Linked DNA regions of Homo sapiens: region 2 is linked to region 1. Evidence: fine-mapped expression QTL. A gene starts in region 1. The other region holds a variant in brackets. All regions are shown on one strand. Distances are from middle to middle. Region 1 holds the start of CDH4 (cadherin 4). Region 2 has its middle 220 kb from the start of MIR548AG2.

Evidence for each region. PIP is the estimated chance that this variant, and not a neighbour inherited with it, causes the effect.
Region 2: its variant is fine-mapped to the expression of CDH4 in esophagus muscle (GTEx, PIP above 0.99).

Annotation. Positions count from the first base shown.
Region 1 is chr20:61,247,659-61,255,984 of GRCh38, forward strand. CDH4 (cadherin 4) reads left to right here and starts at 4,603. Exons shown (of 16, transcript NM_001794.5): 1 at 4,603-4,912; 2 at 7,168-7,279. The coding sequence starts at 4,856. RefSeq lists an enhancer at 6,707-7,399.
Region 2 is chr20:60,782,410-60,790,735 of GRCh38, forward strand. No RefSeq gene overlaps it. Among named protein-coding and RNA genes, the nearest start is that of MIR548AG2, 220 kb to the left of the region's middle. The variant A/G (reference allele first, on the strand shown) is at 5,008.

The DNA.
Region 1 (8,326 bases):
GCAGACAAGAAACAAACAAGCAAAGCAACAACATGGAACAAACAAAAGCCCTGGGATCTCAAAACGGCCCCTCCCCATCTTCTGTTGCCAGGACGCATCTCCCTTCTCCAGCAGATCCGATACCTTTGATTGTTGCATGGTTTGACTGTTTTGTTTTGAATTTTTTTCCCCTTGTGAATTGCATCTCCTGCTCCATGGAAATTTCCAAAGATTCAAAGACCCCCAAGTCCCAGGGGAGTGAGAGAAGCAGCCTCACCTGGTTCTTCCTCAGAACCCAGAGTGCATGGTGTGCTTCTTTGGAGCACAGTCATGACTAAGGCTGTAAGTCTGAACTCAGCCAGCCCTGGGTTCCAGGTCAAGCTCCTCCCCTCTTTTCATGCCTCAGTGTCTTCATCTGTATAATGGGGGAGTGCAGGAAGTACCCCAGGGTACAGTGCAGCCAGTGGGGGTCATCGTTGGTATCATTGCTTTATGGGTCCACCCCCTGGGGGCTCCTAGAGGGTTAGAGCCTGGGCCACATGTGGAGAGGGGAACACCCTGTTCCCCCACCCTCAAGGCTCTCGGAGTGGCCAGAGGGCGGACACACAGAAAGGAGCTCCACCACACTGTGAGGAGAGAGGTGTCCACCAAGCCCTGCAGCAGCTAAAGCCAACACAGTGCTCCGAGAGAAAGGAGCTCCGGAGGGAGCAGCAGAGGCACAGGCACAGAGCCTGGATGGGGGCGTGTGCTTCTGGATGGACTAGAGGGTCAGGATTCTGCTGGTGGCGAGTGGGCCAGGCTGAGCATGAGACTGGAAAAGGAAAGAAGACAGCCCTAGGTTGGAAGGGGACATTTGCATCTTTCCCCCTGGGATTTCTGCTTCCAAGGGATGCACCTCACAGCCATGCCCCCAGGTCCTAAGTCACGCTGCCTGGAGTAGAATCTCAGCCCACCCCGTGCCGGCGGGTGACCCAGGCCAGGCTGCTCACATACCCAAGTCTGTCCTGTCTGTGGACCATGGGCATCACCACCTCCGTCCTATGTGAGGATCGCATGGGATCATGACTGAAAACCTTCGACACAGTACCTGCCACACAGTACATAGGGATCCCTGTTCATGGAGAAAGATAGATTTTGAAAAACCTACAACAATAACTCTATTCCTTTCTTTATTCCCAGTGTAGCTTCACCTCAGCGGGTGAGCGTTATTGGAATGGAAGGCAGGGAGCGATCTGTACTGGTCTCTCTGCTGCCTGCTCGCCCCTCTCAATCTCTCCTTTGCTTTTTGCTTTAAGATCGCTCTTCTCTATTGCATGCAGGGAGTTTTCTTGAGCTGGGTAGCAGGCTGATTCCATTCATTTCTACAGTGCCTTGAATATCTTCAATCGCCCACAAAGACAATGTTTTATTCTACGAACACACCTTTTGCCAACATCTCACTGCTTTCTGTACAAAACAGCCTTTTTGTCGAACATTGAAGTGTCTACAATAATAACTATCAATAGGGAAGGAAACAAATTAACATCCAACGAATATAGGGAAATGTGGCCCTGATACAAGCACTTGGTTTTTGCTTCTAAAGAGGAACCCCTTCCCAGACTCACCTCATCGAGAGGGAGACAGAGAAGTCTATCAAGCTTAGCAAACATCTGTAGTCCAATTACTGTCAACAGTTTACAGGTGTTGAGAGCAAACAGTCACTTATACACTACCTCCCAAATGCATTCTCTTAATCTCTCTTAGAAACAAACGCACACATTTTTCTAGGGCTCTTTATCCAAAGTGCAGAGAGACTAGCTCCTCCTCCAGGCCAGCTGTGGTCTTCCCTGCACTGGGTGGACCAAAGGCAGGCCACAGTCCCACTGGCCAATGTGCCAAACACTGTGCCAGGGTTTCTCCAGCTACCCCAGGCAGAGGCCCAGGCTCCACCCCTGGAGGTCCAGGTTCTGGAAATCCAGGGTGGGGCATAGGAGAGAGCATTTTTCTGATGCTTCCAGCTGCTGCTCTGTTACGTGGGACATACTGTCTGTGGGACAGGCCGTGATTCTCAAATGCTAGTGGCATGAGCATGGACTGGAGAGATTGTTACAAGGTCAGCTTCCAGGCCCCACTTGCAAAAGCTCCAAGTCCATGGATTTCAGGTGGAGCCTAGGAACTGGCATTTTTCATGAGTTTCTCTGTGATTTTGTTGCAGATGATTGCAGACCAGAGGTGGGCGTGGCGGGGAATCCCATCAGCATTCAGAATCAATGTAGCAGGTCTGGGGTAAGGCCTGAGTTTCTGCATTTTTAACAAGCTCCTGGGGGATCTTGATGCTGCTGGTCTGGGGACCACACTCAGAGTGACAGGCTGAAGACCATTCTTTGGAGGCACTGCTTTGTATTTTAGGTCATATTTTTCTTTTCTGTCTCAGCAATCTTTGCTGCTGCATTCAGAGTAAGTCTGATAAACCAATGCTCTCTACTGGACTCCTGTCAGTTACTGCAGTGTTTCTGAAACTATGTATTTCGGAAAATGCGAGTTCCCGTAAGACATTACAGCTGTGTAAGAAGGTTTCTTTGAACAAAGTTGGGGCCATGCTGCGTGTGCCAGGGTCCCAGCTCTGGGTGAGAATGCTGGCACTGCAGCTTTCCCCGTGCCTGCCCTCTGCACCCTCCTCTGCCTGACTGTATAGTGGAGTTAGAAGGACTCCAAGAGCAACTTTACATAAAGCTCCTACACATGTCCCTGGCACATAGCTAGCACCTTGTAAGGACAGGCTATTGTCAAACTCTACCCTTTCTGGAAATCACGCTGCAGTAGACTCAAGATTCATTCAGTAGTAGAGGGAGATGTGCTTAACACAGTGTTTGGAGTTCAGGACCCACCTGCTCCTGGACCCCAGTCTCCCTGCCACACACTCATACCTTTTCTTTTTCAAATTGGCGCGCTCCTCAGCGCTTCAACAGTTTCGCAGAGCACGTTGGAGCAAATGCGGGGGTCTGTGATGCCTCTCCAAAGAAATAACTCGCATAATGCTCAGGCCTCCTGCAGACAAAGGTGTATCCCCAGCGACAGATATTTTAAGAAAATAGACCAGGGACACAAGACAAGAGAGCTGTCTTGGTGTCTAAAGCAGTCTTGGACAGCTTCTGATGTCGCTCGAGCAGTGGTGAAGCACCTTGAATAAGGAGGAAAGCAGAGGGGGCGTCTTCCCAAAGGACGGGCACATGGCCGAGGAATGGAATTCTCTGTCCATGAGGATTTTGGATGGATCTGTTCATGAAACCTCACTGGCTACGCAGGACCTTCGAGTGAGTCTAAACCTCCAGCCATGTCAACTGGTAACCTCTCCTTCTTCGGCTAGGTGGGGAGTGGGACAAGGCCATAACTGATAGGAGTCCAGGCTGGGGCAGATTTTGTGTCTCCTGACTAGTTCCATAGTTAAGTTGCAAAACCGAATCTCGCCTTGTGCTCTCGGATGTAGTGCTTACTCTGGTCCTCTGGGGTTATCTAAAATCTGGTTTCCTTAAGCGTAAGGCAGAGCTCTAACCGGGAGACCACCCTGCCCCCAAGGGTGGGGGTTCTGGGAGGGAGAGAGGGAAGCGGCTGCTCTGTAGCTTTCTCTACTGGCTTGCCCAAGTGGACTCTGATCTTGGAGCTCAACAGTGTCACTCAATCTTCCACCCTCTCCTTTGCAACCTATTTCTTAAACCAGAACTAATGTATTCTGGACACAGAGTCCCTGAAACCCCAGACAAAGAAAATTCGATGTATCTGAACAAACAAAACCGCGTTTCTTTAAATCTCCAAGCCAAAAGGAAAAGTGCAGAAACATTTACTCACTGTCCGACCTGTACATATATTTTACCTGATAACCCTTAAAGAAGTGCCCCCCAGTTCAGCCATCACCCATGCAGGGCAAAGGGAGCTGGAGCTGGCCCAGCCTGTCGGCGCAGACACTCCTGACAGCTCCTGTCTGGGCACTTCTTTCTTTCTTGGAGCTTCTAATTTCTTTCTTGGCTTCTGAGGCCTAACAGGGTGTTTTGATGCACACACAGGAATTACTACCGTCCCCAATCCTAGGGTACATCCCTAGCCCAGGCCAGGGCTTTGAGTTTTCCTAGGAGCGGGAGGGTCTGCAAAGCCCCACAGGCTGAAATCTCAGCGTGGCCCTCTGCTCATCTGCTCCAGGTGGAAACTCTCACCCCTGAGCTGCCCGACCTGGGTTCAAGCCCGGGTCAGGGGAGTTAGCAAGGAGACACCTGAAAAATAAAAGGACAGAATGGAAGTGCACACTCCCACCGCGGGCCCGGGCGGGAAGTCGGACTAAGACCGCGGCGGGACCGCCCCATCCAGAAAGGGTGCCCCGGGTGTGGGGGCGGAAACCCCAGCGCTGTCTTCAGTCTCCACACCCGCGCCTTTTTCCCCTGGAAAACGAGCGTCCTTGGCCTCTTCGGCCGCAACCGGGCGGCTCCAGACGTCCAGGAGGGCAGAGGCTGGGCTGGTGCGGCGCGGGGGGCGCGGGCGCGGGCTCTGCGCCTTTAAGGCCCGCGTCGGCAGAGCGAGCGCAGGGGCCGGGCGGCGGGGCGGGGCCTCGGCGGGGCGGCCGCGGCTTCACCTGCAGCTCCGAGCGCGCGGAACAGAGGCGCGGGCGGCTGCGAGGCCGGCGGACGCACCGGCCCGAGGGAACGCGCCGCCGGCCGGACTTGGCCTGGCTCCCGGAGCCGGGGCGGCGAGCGCGGCGGGCGCAGCGGGGCTGGAGGCTCCGGGCAGGCGCGGGGGAGCGGCGGCGGCGGCGGCGATCGGAGCGGCGGCGGTGGTCTCGGCGGCGGCGGCGGCGGCGGCGGCAGGGAGCGGGCTCCCGGTGCCGGGCACCGGGCGGGCGGCGGGGAAGATGACCGCGGGCGCCGGCGTGCTCCTTCTGCTGCTCTCGCTCTCCGGCGCGCTCCGGGTAAGTTGCCGCCTCCCGCCCCCGCCGTTCGGAAGCCCCGGGCAGCGGGAGGTCGTCCCCGGATCCCGCGGGGCGCTCACACACCCGGCGGGGCTCTCCCGGGCTCCCCCGCCGCGCTCCCCGCTGCATCCAGCCCGGCGCCCGCGCTCGGCGAAGCTGCCTGCGGTCGGCAGGAGCGGGAAGCCGCCTGGGCAGCGGGGAGCGGCGGAGCAGGGTGGGAGTGGGGCTCGGTGGAGGACCCGGGGAGCTCCGCCTGCACCGGACCCGCCGAGCCTCCCTCGAACGCCCAAAGCCCGTAGCCGCTACCCGGAGCTCGGCTTGCCTGCATGGGGCAGGCTTCCACTGGCGGAGCCGGCGCGCCCTCCATCGCCCGGGAGCCGCGCGCCGCGGGAGTTGCCGAGCCCAGCCCCGGCCGTGGCTGAAGGCGTGGGGCGCCCGGCGGCTGCGGGCCAGGGATCCGCGAGTGCGGGGCGCCTGCCCGACCTCTCCTGCCCAAGGCCTGGGGGTCCGTCTAGCGGCGCCGCTCAGTTCTGTGGGTGCCGGCAGGACCCGCGCTGCGGGTGGGCGGCGGGGTAGGACTGCGGGGCACTCTCACCCCCGAGCCCTCGGCGGGGCTGGAGCCTGCGTGTCCGGCGGGGCCCCGGGGGCTGGGAGCTGGGCCGGGCTTGGGCCGGGAAGCCGGACGCCGGGCGGGCGCGGCGCGGGAGGGCGCCCCGGGAGGGCGAGCGGGTCTCCCGCTGCCTCTGCAGAGCCCCGCGGGCCGGATTGCCAGCTTTGCTCTGCGCCTGGCGAGGTGCGCGGCCCGCGGGGGCAGAGAGCGCGGCGGCTCCGGGGGCGCCCCTGGGCGGAGGCGGAGGGGCGGCGGGAGTTGCAGGAACCCCCTCTCGTGGCCGATCGGCCTCGCTGCCTTCTCCCGGGCAGCGCTGTTGTAACCTCGGAAATAAACAAGTGCCAGCGGCGGGAGGCCCGCTCCGAGGCCGCGGGGCGCTGGGGGACGCGCTGGGCACACGCTTCGGGCGGGCGGAAACTTTCCTGGGCGAGTTGAGCCTCCCACCGGGCTGCGGGTGCGATTTGGAGCTTCGTGGCCGATGAAGAAAGCCGCGGTTTAGAGCTTTTCGTAAGGAATGACCCTGCGTCCCGCTCTCCTCCCTCGGTGCTGGGGGTAGAGGGGCGCCCTCCGCGGTGCCGGCGTCGGGAAGCCTGGAGCTCCGGGCTGGGGGCGGCCTCCGGAGTCGAAGCATGGGCGGGCGACGGCAGCGCGCGGAGCTGGAGGAGGCGGCGGGCGGGAGGCGCCACTGCCCGGTGCGGGCTGCACCCGAGGCTTCCTGCGCTCGCCGGGGAGCCAAGCACCGCTGTGCTCCTGCTCCTTCAGCGGGGCTGGCTTCCCGCTTGCACACACTGCCTCTCCCTCCACCACCTCCTCCTGCCTGTCACGCCCCCTCCCAGAAGCTTGGTCGGAGGGCCCTGTCGTCCACCCCATCCTTCCCTGGCCCTGTGCCATGGGCTCTAGACTTCCCCACTGAGCAGGAAAGGCGAGCGAGCTCCGGAGGACAGGAGGAGACCCCCTTTCCGGTCAGTTAGGGGAGCCGTCTCCCTGCCTGGGCTGGAGATGGGGGCTCCGAGGGTGAAAATGCGGGCTGAAGACTAGAAGGTGGAAGCGCCCCCACTGCCTCCTCACCCCAGCCACCGGCAGCCTCCCGCAGAGCTGCCTTCTTCGACCGGCTCCGGACCTAGTCCTAGAGAATCTTCTTCCTTTCTCTCCTCTTTCTCCTCCCTCCCGGTGACCTGGAGAGGAGACAAGAAGCTGCCTCCTCCGCCTTACCAAGAGCGCAGAGCGGTGGGCCTAAAGCGCGAATGGTCTGAGCAGAGCCGCCCACACTTTGGCCTCCCTGCCCTTAGTGGCTTCGGGAGCAGCGGCTGAAGTCTTCTGTCTCTGCCTTTTGGTCATTTCTCAGGCGTCTCCTCTGCCAATAAGGCCCTGGCCGGCCTGGCTTCCCCAACAGTCCGTCCTTCACTCCCTGCCTGCTGTGTGTGGGGCTGGGGAAGGATGCTCCTGGTCTGTAGCCTGGAGAGTGCTCCCTAAAGTCCCCAGAGAGCAGAGGAGCAGACGGGGTATCGCGTCTGGGTGGAGACGGTGGCCTGCCAGCCTTTCTCTCTTAGCCAGAGACCTTTTACACAGCAGGCCCTGGATGAATGTTGGTTGGATTAAATTTCTGTGAACTTATTGTTTTACACTCTCCCCTTTGTGTTCTCAGGCCCATAATGAGGATCTTACAACTAGAGAGACCTGCAAGGCTGGGTTCTCTGAAGATGATTACACGGCATTAATCTCCCAAAATATTCTAGAAGGGGAAAAGCTACTTCAAGGTAAGGCGGGGTGTGGAGGGGTGGGAGTGAATTGCTGCCATGCTTTTCCTTGGGGAAACATGTAGATGGGAGAGGCAAGGCTTGCCTCATCTTTGTGCTCTCTGTGAAATGATGGTGGTGAAGTCCACGAGGTGCAAATTGGTTGACCTGAAAGGCGTTTTGCATAACAGGTGAATGATTCAGAACCCCGGTCATTTTTGAGTGAAGTGAATCATTTCCTGGGCAGCAAACTGTAATTCGGATGTAACATCACCCAAATAGTGTGCAGAGAGAGACCTTCTTACCAAGTATTTTTATGCATGAAGTTCTGGATACTTAAATTATCCCTGCTTTGAAATGTATGATAAAGCAGACGATGTTGTTGGAAATGCGGTAAATAAGCCCACAGACGGTCTGTTCACAAATGTGGCATTCATTTTCATTACTGCCCCACTGACAACACGAAAACACACATGCAGGAGGGAACTACCAATTAGCTTTATCGTAATTGCAGGATTATATCCACACTTGTGATGGGAAAGTCAGAGACAGCTTCAAAACTCAGATGACAGTAGATCATCCTGCTTATTGGTCTGTTTCCCTTTCAAGACAAACTAATTAGACTTTATATTTGCATAGGAGGGGACATAAATCAGTTCTGTGCCATGAGCACCTTGGCTGTGAGCCTTTCCTCTCTGCATCAGTTTCCTGGAAGTGGCAGCCTTTGAATTGATTTCAAAGCGATAGAGGAAGAGGACTTTTGATAAAGTATCGAAGCTAAATTTCCACATTCAGGACTGTTGACTGCCCTACCGGTTTTGTGTCCCAGGGAATGTAAACTTTTCCCTCCAGAACTGACAGCGGTTCCTGTGTATGTGTGTGTGTGCATGCATGTGCGTGAACTCGCTCACGCTTATAGTGAAGTGATTTTTCAGATCCTCGCCCTTCAAGACAGAACTTGTTGACGTGCCTTGTTGATTCCTGGTTATGTGGATAGGATTTTTATTTTGCACCGAATCCAAGTTTTCTGACTTAGTTTTTTTATCTAAACTGTGATACTACTGACTC
Region 2 (8,326 bases), 470 kb before region 1:
CCAAAGCCTTTCCTACCCACCTTGCTCTTCTCTCCCATGGACAGCACCTTTACGAGCTGTGACCCAGAGTTTGCAGCTGAAACCAATTTTGAAACCCCAAACTAAGCCTCGTCTTCTTGCTCTTGTATTCATGCTTTCTTCTTCTTGGAACTTACTTCCCTTGTTGAACTTCTAGAGAAGTGATGGTATGGCAGCTTGAGTTTGGTGTCAGAGCGTGCACACGTGTGTGGCGGAAGTGTGCAGGTGCCTGTGAGCAATTAGCTTCAGTTCCACAGTTGGGAACGCCAGTGGGTGGCACAGGTGTGGAGCTGCTTTCCATTCCTGCCTGGCCATCCTGGGTGTGCCTGGACTGTGCAAGCTCTGATGACCTGACTCTTACCCTGGAGTAAGACAGGTCTGCTCCTAGCTGGACCCATGGGAGGGGCCCAACAGCCACCTTGTGAGACAGCTACAGCTCTGGACACAGGCTCAGTCCCAGCAGCTGCTCTTTACCCACACACAGACACACAAACACACAGAACACACACACGGAAACAACATACAAACATGTAGAATACACATAGGCATAGCATACAAACATACATATACACAGACACAACATACAAACCTACAGAGCATGCTCAGAAACAAGACACAGAGACCCAAATACAAACACAGACACGCAAACACACAGAACACACACACAACATACAAACAAGTAGAACACATAGGCACAGCATACAAACATACAGATACACAGACACAACATAGAAACACACAGAGCATGCACAGAAACAACACACAGAGACCCAAATACAAACACAGACACACAAACACACAGAACACACACACAAACAGCATACAAACATGTAGAAGGTGCAAAGACACAATATACACACAGAACATGCACAGAAACAACACACAGAGATACAAATACAAACACAGACACACAAACACACAGAACACACAGAAACAACATGCAAACACGTAGAATACACATAGGCACAGCATACAAACATACAGATACACACACAACATACAAACACACAGAGCATGCACAGAAACAATACACAGAAACACAACACACAATACACATAGCGTGCACAGATGATGCAACACACACACACACGGATACAACATAGAAACACACCTGTGCCCTGTGCTTGCTGCCTCACTGCCTGGAACGCGCTTCCCCGGGTCTTTGGATGCTGGTCTCCTCTTATCAGTTAGATTTCAGCTTCAATGCTTCCCCTCAAAACCCAATGTTTCCCTAACTGCAGGCCCCCTAACACCCCCACCATACTCCAGCGCAGTCTCTGTTCCAGTCTCTTACCCACTGCACCCCTCTCGGACACAACAGTAGCCGTCACAGCTGCTCCTTCCTTCACAGCTGTTTCCTGGCAGCCCAGGACACAGGCCCTTCCCATCAGACTTGAGGTTCTTGTTCACACCCATATATGTAGTAGGTGGTCCATAAGTATTTGTTGAATGGATGAATAAATAAAATGGGAAAAATTTTTAGTGTATCAATTCTGCTCAGTATTGTACTGGAAAATACCTACCGAACAATTTGGAGGATTCTTTAGAAGATGTTAGAAAACCATTCCGCTATAAAAGCAAAAGGCCAACTGCACTGAAGTCCGAATCTTAACTTTAAACCTGTCATTCTTGCTGGTGCCTCTTTCTTCAACCAGAACACTCTACTTGACACTCATCTACTTAATTGAAAAGCATTCAGGCCCCTGCGTTATTAGCATTTGTTGCTAGTATAATCTCCTTCTACACCAACACGAAATTTGTATCAAATCCTGACAGCAGGTGAGGTGAGAAAAGTTTCTTATTGAACGGCTTGACCACAAGCCTGTAGAGAATTGTAGAATCTTGAAAGCAATAAATCAAAACAGCAATCAGGTTCTGCACACTCTAACGACAGCAGTAACAACAATGATAAAACAGCCCGGTGTACTGAGTACTCACTGTGGACAGGCACGGTGCAAAGCCATTTGTGTTATGAATTCACTTAATCTCGTTCCTAAGTCCATGAATAACTGCACTCCACAGATGAGGAAGTCCAAGCGCTGAACTTTTAAGCGATGTCCCGGATGCCGCAGTCAGGAAGACGTACACCTGACATCCAACCCAGCAGCCCAGCCCCAGAGCCTCTCCAGATGTCATGCCGTGAAATGCTTCAGTGACTTCTGGACTGGTACAAAGGAAGGTACACTGAATATTCGGAGAGAGCAATCGTTGCATAAAAAGCTGGGCAGCTATTTTTATTGCCAAAACACCTGGATGAAAAGGGGAAAAAAGAGACATGGGGACTGCCATCTGGACACACTACTGATGTTTATCATGACCTCCATATTCTGTGCAGATGTGTCTGGCTAATGGATGTCGTGGAGACACAGCTCTCAAAAAGAAAGACAGGGGAGCCTCTACCTCCTCATCTGGATCCACAAAACAGCCCCAGTGTGATGAGTGCACCAATGCTGGCCACCCTATGAGCACTGTCAGGAGCAGCTGTGGGGCTACCCTGAGATGTCACTTACAACATTTAAGGTGGCTCTTAGCTTTCTAAGTTGAAAATGAATTAAACTTTCTCAGTTTTCTAGACATTTTATTACAAGAAGAGTTTTGGAAAAATCATGTGTGGGGGTTGAAATTTGGTTTGAAAGAAATTAAAAGTGTATGTATAGGAGTTTAACGAGAAATCAATTATTCTAACCAAGAAACTTTGAGTCCTGACATGTCTCAGCATCGCCAATTGTTATGTGATATTTTTACAGACATGGAATCTAAAGGCTGGAAGGAGTTTGAACATCAAGCTATTCATCTACAAAGATCAAACTGATTTCTTCTGACTTTTCACTAAGGTGTCGCTGAAATAAGATTTATCAGGCTATCAGTTTTGTTATTTCTGAAAGGCATTGCAAAACATCCTTCGAGGATCTGAATTAATTTTGCAATAATGAGATCATATCAGACTATATATCTGATATTTTAGATAACACTGGCCAGTGCTTTTGGTTATGTTGTCATTTTTGGCTAGATAGTAACATGTATTAGCAAGGCCAAAATGTGAATACATTTCACAAAAACACACATTCTTAGCCCTGCTCCTCTAACTTGGAATAATTTTCATCTCAGTGAGATATTGGCTAGGACTTTGATTCCAAAACAAGTAAAATTGAAGCCTATTTCTCTTTTCCCCTCTGTTCTTTATTTTTTTTCTTTGCTGGAAAATCTGTTTACATCTTTTTTTTCTTTTTTGAAACACTTTTCCCAAGAGATCTCAATTACTACTAAGAAATTTTAACTCAGTTTCAGAGCTGAAGAAACTGTCAACACAAAAAAAGATTTTAATGATCACCTGGTTGCATTTAACATTCACAAAAAAAAAGTCCCTTGTTTGGGAAACTCACAATAATTGAAAATATACAGTTTTTAAATTATGCATGTGCTTCTGACACTGGTGCTGTAAGGATAAAAAGCATCCACTGAAGCACATTTTTTTACTACACCGAACTGGAAACATCGTAATTCTAGGCAATCACAGAACAGTTGTGTAGTTCACACGCAGAAGCAGCTGTGCTCATGCTCAGCCCTTGGAGCTGTTCCCCCACCACGGGGAGGAGCTCAGGAACATTGAGTGCGACCTCAAGATGAAGGACGGGACTTTGGCTGCATTCTGTGGAGAGCCACGCTGGGGGAGGTCACATCCTCCTCCTTATCCACCAAACATCCTTCCAGCAAGACCAGGAAAAGTCAGGAGACCACTCAAAAAAGGATGAAAAACCATCTCAAACAATGTCAGCAAGACAGGACCACTGTGAAATTTTCAAAAACGACTTGTGATCCCAACTCCTGGCTGAAACCCCCGCCCTGGTCACGGCTCTGCGCTCATCCTCCATGAGTCTGTGGCTGTCATCTATAAAGTGGGCACAGCAGTCAATTCGCCGGCCTGTAATGATGCCTGAGGTTAGGTACACTGAGATATTTGTAAAGCATCCCCAAATAGTCATATTCAAGTTATTATAACTATTAATAATAATAAATAATTGTTATTGCTTTTATTCACATTCATTGACGTTTCCCGTGCCAGGCATTGTGCTAAGCATTTTATCTGGAATCTCTCATTCATTCCCCTGGGGCCCTAAGAGGCCTCTGATTTCAGTCCTACAGACTTAAAAACGGGGAGTTAAGGGCAGCTGGGTGGGCAGGGATGATCTGCCAGCTCACCTTCCCAACCAGCTGCTGGGTGCTGTGAGCAGGCAACCTTCAGTCATCACCCTCTTCCAGGGCTGCCTCACAAGCAGAGAGCTTCCTCACTCACACACCTTCTGGGGCAGCCCAACTAAAGAGGAATGGATGCAGAGGCATAAAGGCATTGCCTTCTCAGCCCCATGCCCTGTAATAGGCTGCTTCAGCTCCAGAGCTCCCGTGCGGTCAGCTGGGACTGCTGGTCAGGCCACCGCAGTATGATGACGAAGACCCTCCTCAACCTCCTCCTCCTCTTCCCTCTTCCACCTCCTCCTCCTCCCTCCTCCTTCCTCCTCCCCTTCTTCTTTTCTCCCTTCCTCATTCCCCCTCCTTTTCTCCCTTCCTCCTCTCCCTTCCTCCTCCCCTTCCTTTCCCCCTCCTCCTCCTCCTTTCTCCCCTTCCTACTCCTTTCTTCTTTCCTTCCACCACCCTCTTCCCTCCTCCTCTACCCCTTCCTCTTCCCCCTCCTCCTCTTCATCCCCCTCTCCCTCCTCCTCTGTCCTCTTCTCCCCCACCTCCCTCTTCTTACCTCCACCCCCTCTTTAGGTATAGATCCCAAGGGATCTATATATATTATATATATATGTTATATATATTTTGATATTATGTCATTATTACAAAATTAATTCAGATCCTTGGAGGATGTTTTGAAATGCCTTCCAGAAATAACAAAACTGACAGACTGATAAATCTTATTTCAGTGGCAGGCACCTTAGTGAAAAGTCAGAAGAAATCAGTTGGATCTTTGTGGTTGAATAGTTCAACCCT[A/G]ATAGTCATCCTGCTCCATGCCAAACCCCTCTCTGTATCCTCTCCTCCGGAATGCAGCTGGTCACAGTGTTTAGGAAACTTGACAAAGCTCACAGAGCGAGTGAGTGATGGCCCCGAGATCCACACCCACATCTCCCTGACCTTCATATTTTTTCTTCCTCCCTTCTCCGCCTTTCCCTCCCTAAAACTTTTGGAAAAATCATAGCTCATCTTCACATCTGTCATACTTGTGACAACTGTTCAGGCTTTCTCCAAGTCTAAAATTATAGAATTCTTTGAAAGAAAGTATTCACGCAATCAAACTTCACCAAATTAGGAGACCGTCAGTGTTAATTAGCAAAAATTCCAGATTATAAAATGCCTCTAGATGTATGTTCTTTTTTTTTTTTTTTTTGAGCAAATATGTCAAGCTTGTATAGCAACTAAAGGAAAGAACTAAAAATAGAAGTCTTTTTTGTTCTGCAATCTGATGACCACAGTAACCTTAAAAACAATTTGTTCTTCTACAGAACTCAACATATATTTTCTACAGTCACCCCTTATTCACAATTCATCTGCTGAACAATCTTTAACAAGGAAAAAGGAACCTCCCTCCTGACCCACGTCTGAATGTTCACAAATTATCATGTTGCCAGAATCAGAATTAAGTGATTCTCCTTCATTTGCCATTTTTCCCTTATTTTCAGGTTCTTCTTTCCTCCACATTAAAAAAAACCCACTTTTTGTGATATGTCGATATGTCTACCCATCACCTCGTCTTTTCAAAGCCCTGGAGATCCCCAGTCACTCTGGGAAAAGAAGAAGCCCCTTATTAATCTGAGCTATTTTAGTGACAACAAGCCTGAATGTTTTAAGATAGACACCATCAGATCCAACATAATGCTGTCAGTTTTTCACGTTCAAACACTTCATCTTCAGAATATCATCTGCATGCCTTAGGGAAAAGCCCATATACTCCTGGAGGTATAAACCCTACCCTCTGGGAGGTGCTTTACCCAGGAAGAAGCCTGAATTCTCCAGTCAGCTTTCTGACCTCCTCAGCCTTCTCTCACAGCACAGCCTTGCACACAGTTCCAGCTTCGGCCACGCTCTGCTAATTGATCTCTTTTCTGTATTTGTTTTTTGATGAGATGAGTAGAAATGGCAATTCACTGTAACAGTAGTAAGTTTTTTAAATCAATAAGGAATCCCGCTGTGTGCTAATTTGGAATAAATAACAAAGCAAATGGGACATGATCTCGGCTCCCAGAGAACCTGCAGTGAGGCAGAGGAAAACGGACCAAGGCCTGCCCTTGCTGGGACTTGTCTGAGCATCTTCTGAGTGTCTCAGCAGTAGCATTCACTGGTTCTGTGCAGTGGGTGCCCTTTGATGCCCACTGTATGGGGTAAGGAGTGAATTACACCTGCATTGCAAATGACTCCAATACAAAACCCATAGTAGATAACTCTGTGAATTATTAGTGAGTGAACAAATGAGGGAATGAATACGGGAAACAGTTTTTCACAATGGCAAGAGCATAAGTTTGAAATGGACCAGCCCACACCTGACTAGGTTGCTGTGAACTTGAGCGGCATGATTCATTCTGAGCCTCAGTTTCCCTTCATTCATGCAGCAGGAACTTTGTCCCTCAGAGTTGTTATAGGAAACCTATATGATGATGTACAAATGTTTATTGAGTGCTGGCTGTGATCCAGGGTCTGAAGTAGGAACTGGGAGCACAGAAGTCCCTGTCTTCATAGGGTTTAATTTTCCCATTCAGTGGAACAAAGCAGATAATAAATGAGCCAAGTTCAGTGGGACATAGTAGATGCTCAAGAAATGAGCCACATTGGAGGCCAACTCAGGAGTTATGGTGGAAAGCTTTTTGTGACTTAGGGCATGAAGTTCAAGTTCAAATTGAACTTCAAAACTGGGCAGCATGAATATCAGTGGCAAGAGCTTGCTGGGTGGAAGGAGCATGGTGAAAGGCAGAAGGTAGCTGGAACATTTAGGGTGCTGTCCAGATGTAAGGGGTGATGGAAAATAAAGTCAGGGAGTTGTCACTGGTCAGCTGTGGAGGCCTGATCCCCTGGGGCGTAATTTCATCCACTACTGGAGGCACTGAGGAGCCTAAAGGGGTTCACCGAGTAGGGACATTACAGAAGCCACTTTAAGGAGATGACGCAAGAACCCGCCCTCAGCCTGGCTTGAAGGTAGGGCAGACTGCAGACCACATTCTACATAAGAACGCCTTTGAATTAGATCTCTTTGTGTTGCAAGTGACGGAAAACACAGCTTACCCCGGCTTATGGAAAGACATCAAGTATTGGCTGATGCTATCGACAGCATCCAGGTGTTCCAACGATGCCAGTCGGAATCCATCTTTCCTCATCTTTCAGCCTCGTTTCCCTCAGCATGACTTCACTTTCAGATATCGTCACAGGACAGATGGCAGCAGCTCCACGATGTCATCCCCAGAGCTCAGCAAGCCCCAGGAGAGAGTGGCTTAAACCATGGCTCCAACTGGAACCTCCAGTGAGGCCCGTGTGGCCCAACTCAGCTAAGCCCATGGCCAAGAGGACACCGTGGTCCAGTGGGTAAGAGCTTGAGTCAGGCATCCTCCTTCTGAGCTGGGTGTGGAGGAAACTTCATCTGCTTCATAGACTGAGAATATGGAATGGTGCAACAGAGTACAGAAGGGGCATTACTACAGCAGGAAAGGGCATTACTGGTGTGTCCGGAGTTTATTCCATCTGGTGGGTTCGTGGTCTCACTGACTTCAAGAATGGAGCCGCAGACCTTCGCAGTGACTTACAGCTCTTAAAGACAGGATGGACCCAGAGAGTGAGCGATAGCAAGGTTTATTGTGAAGAGCGACAGAACAAAGCTTCCACAGCGTGGAAGGGGACGGACTGGGTGGCTGCTGCTGGCTGGGGTGGCCAGCTTTTATTCCTTTATTTGTCCCCTCCCATGTCCTGTTTCTGTCCTATCAGAATGCCCTTTTCTCAATCCTCCCCATGATTGGTTAGTTTTAGAATCCTGCTGATCGGTCCATTTTACCGAGCACTGATTTGTCCATTTTACAAACCTCTTGCTAGCTACAGAGCACTGATTGGTGCGTTTTTACAAAGTGCTGATTGGTGCATTTTAAAATCTCCTTGTAAGACAGAAAAGTTCTCCAAGTCCCCACTCAACCCAGGAAGTCCAGCTGGCTTCACCTCTCACTGGGAGTCTGGAAACAGTGCTGTTAGGATGTTACTCACTGAGAGTACAGAAGGGGCATTACTGAAGTAGGAAAGGGCATTACTGGGAGTCTGGAAACAGTACTGCTGGTGTTAC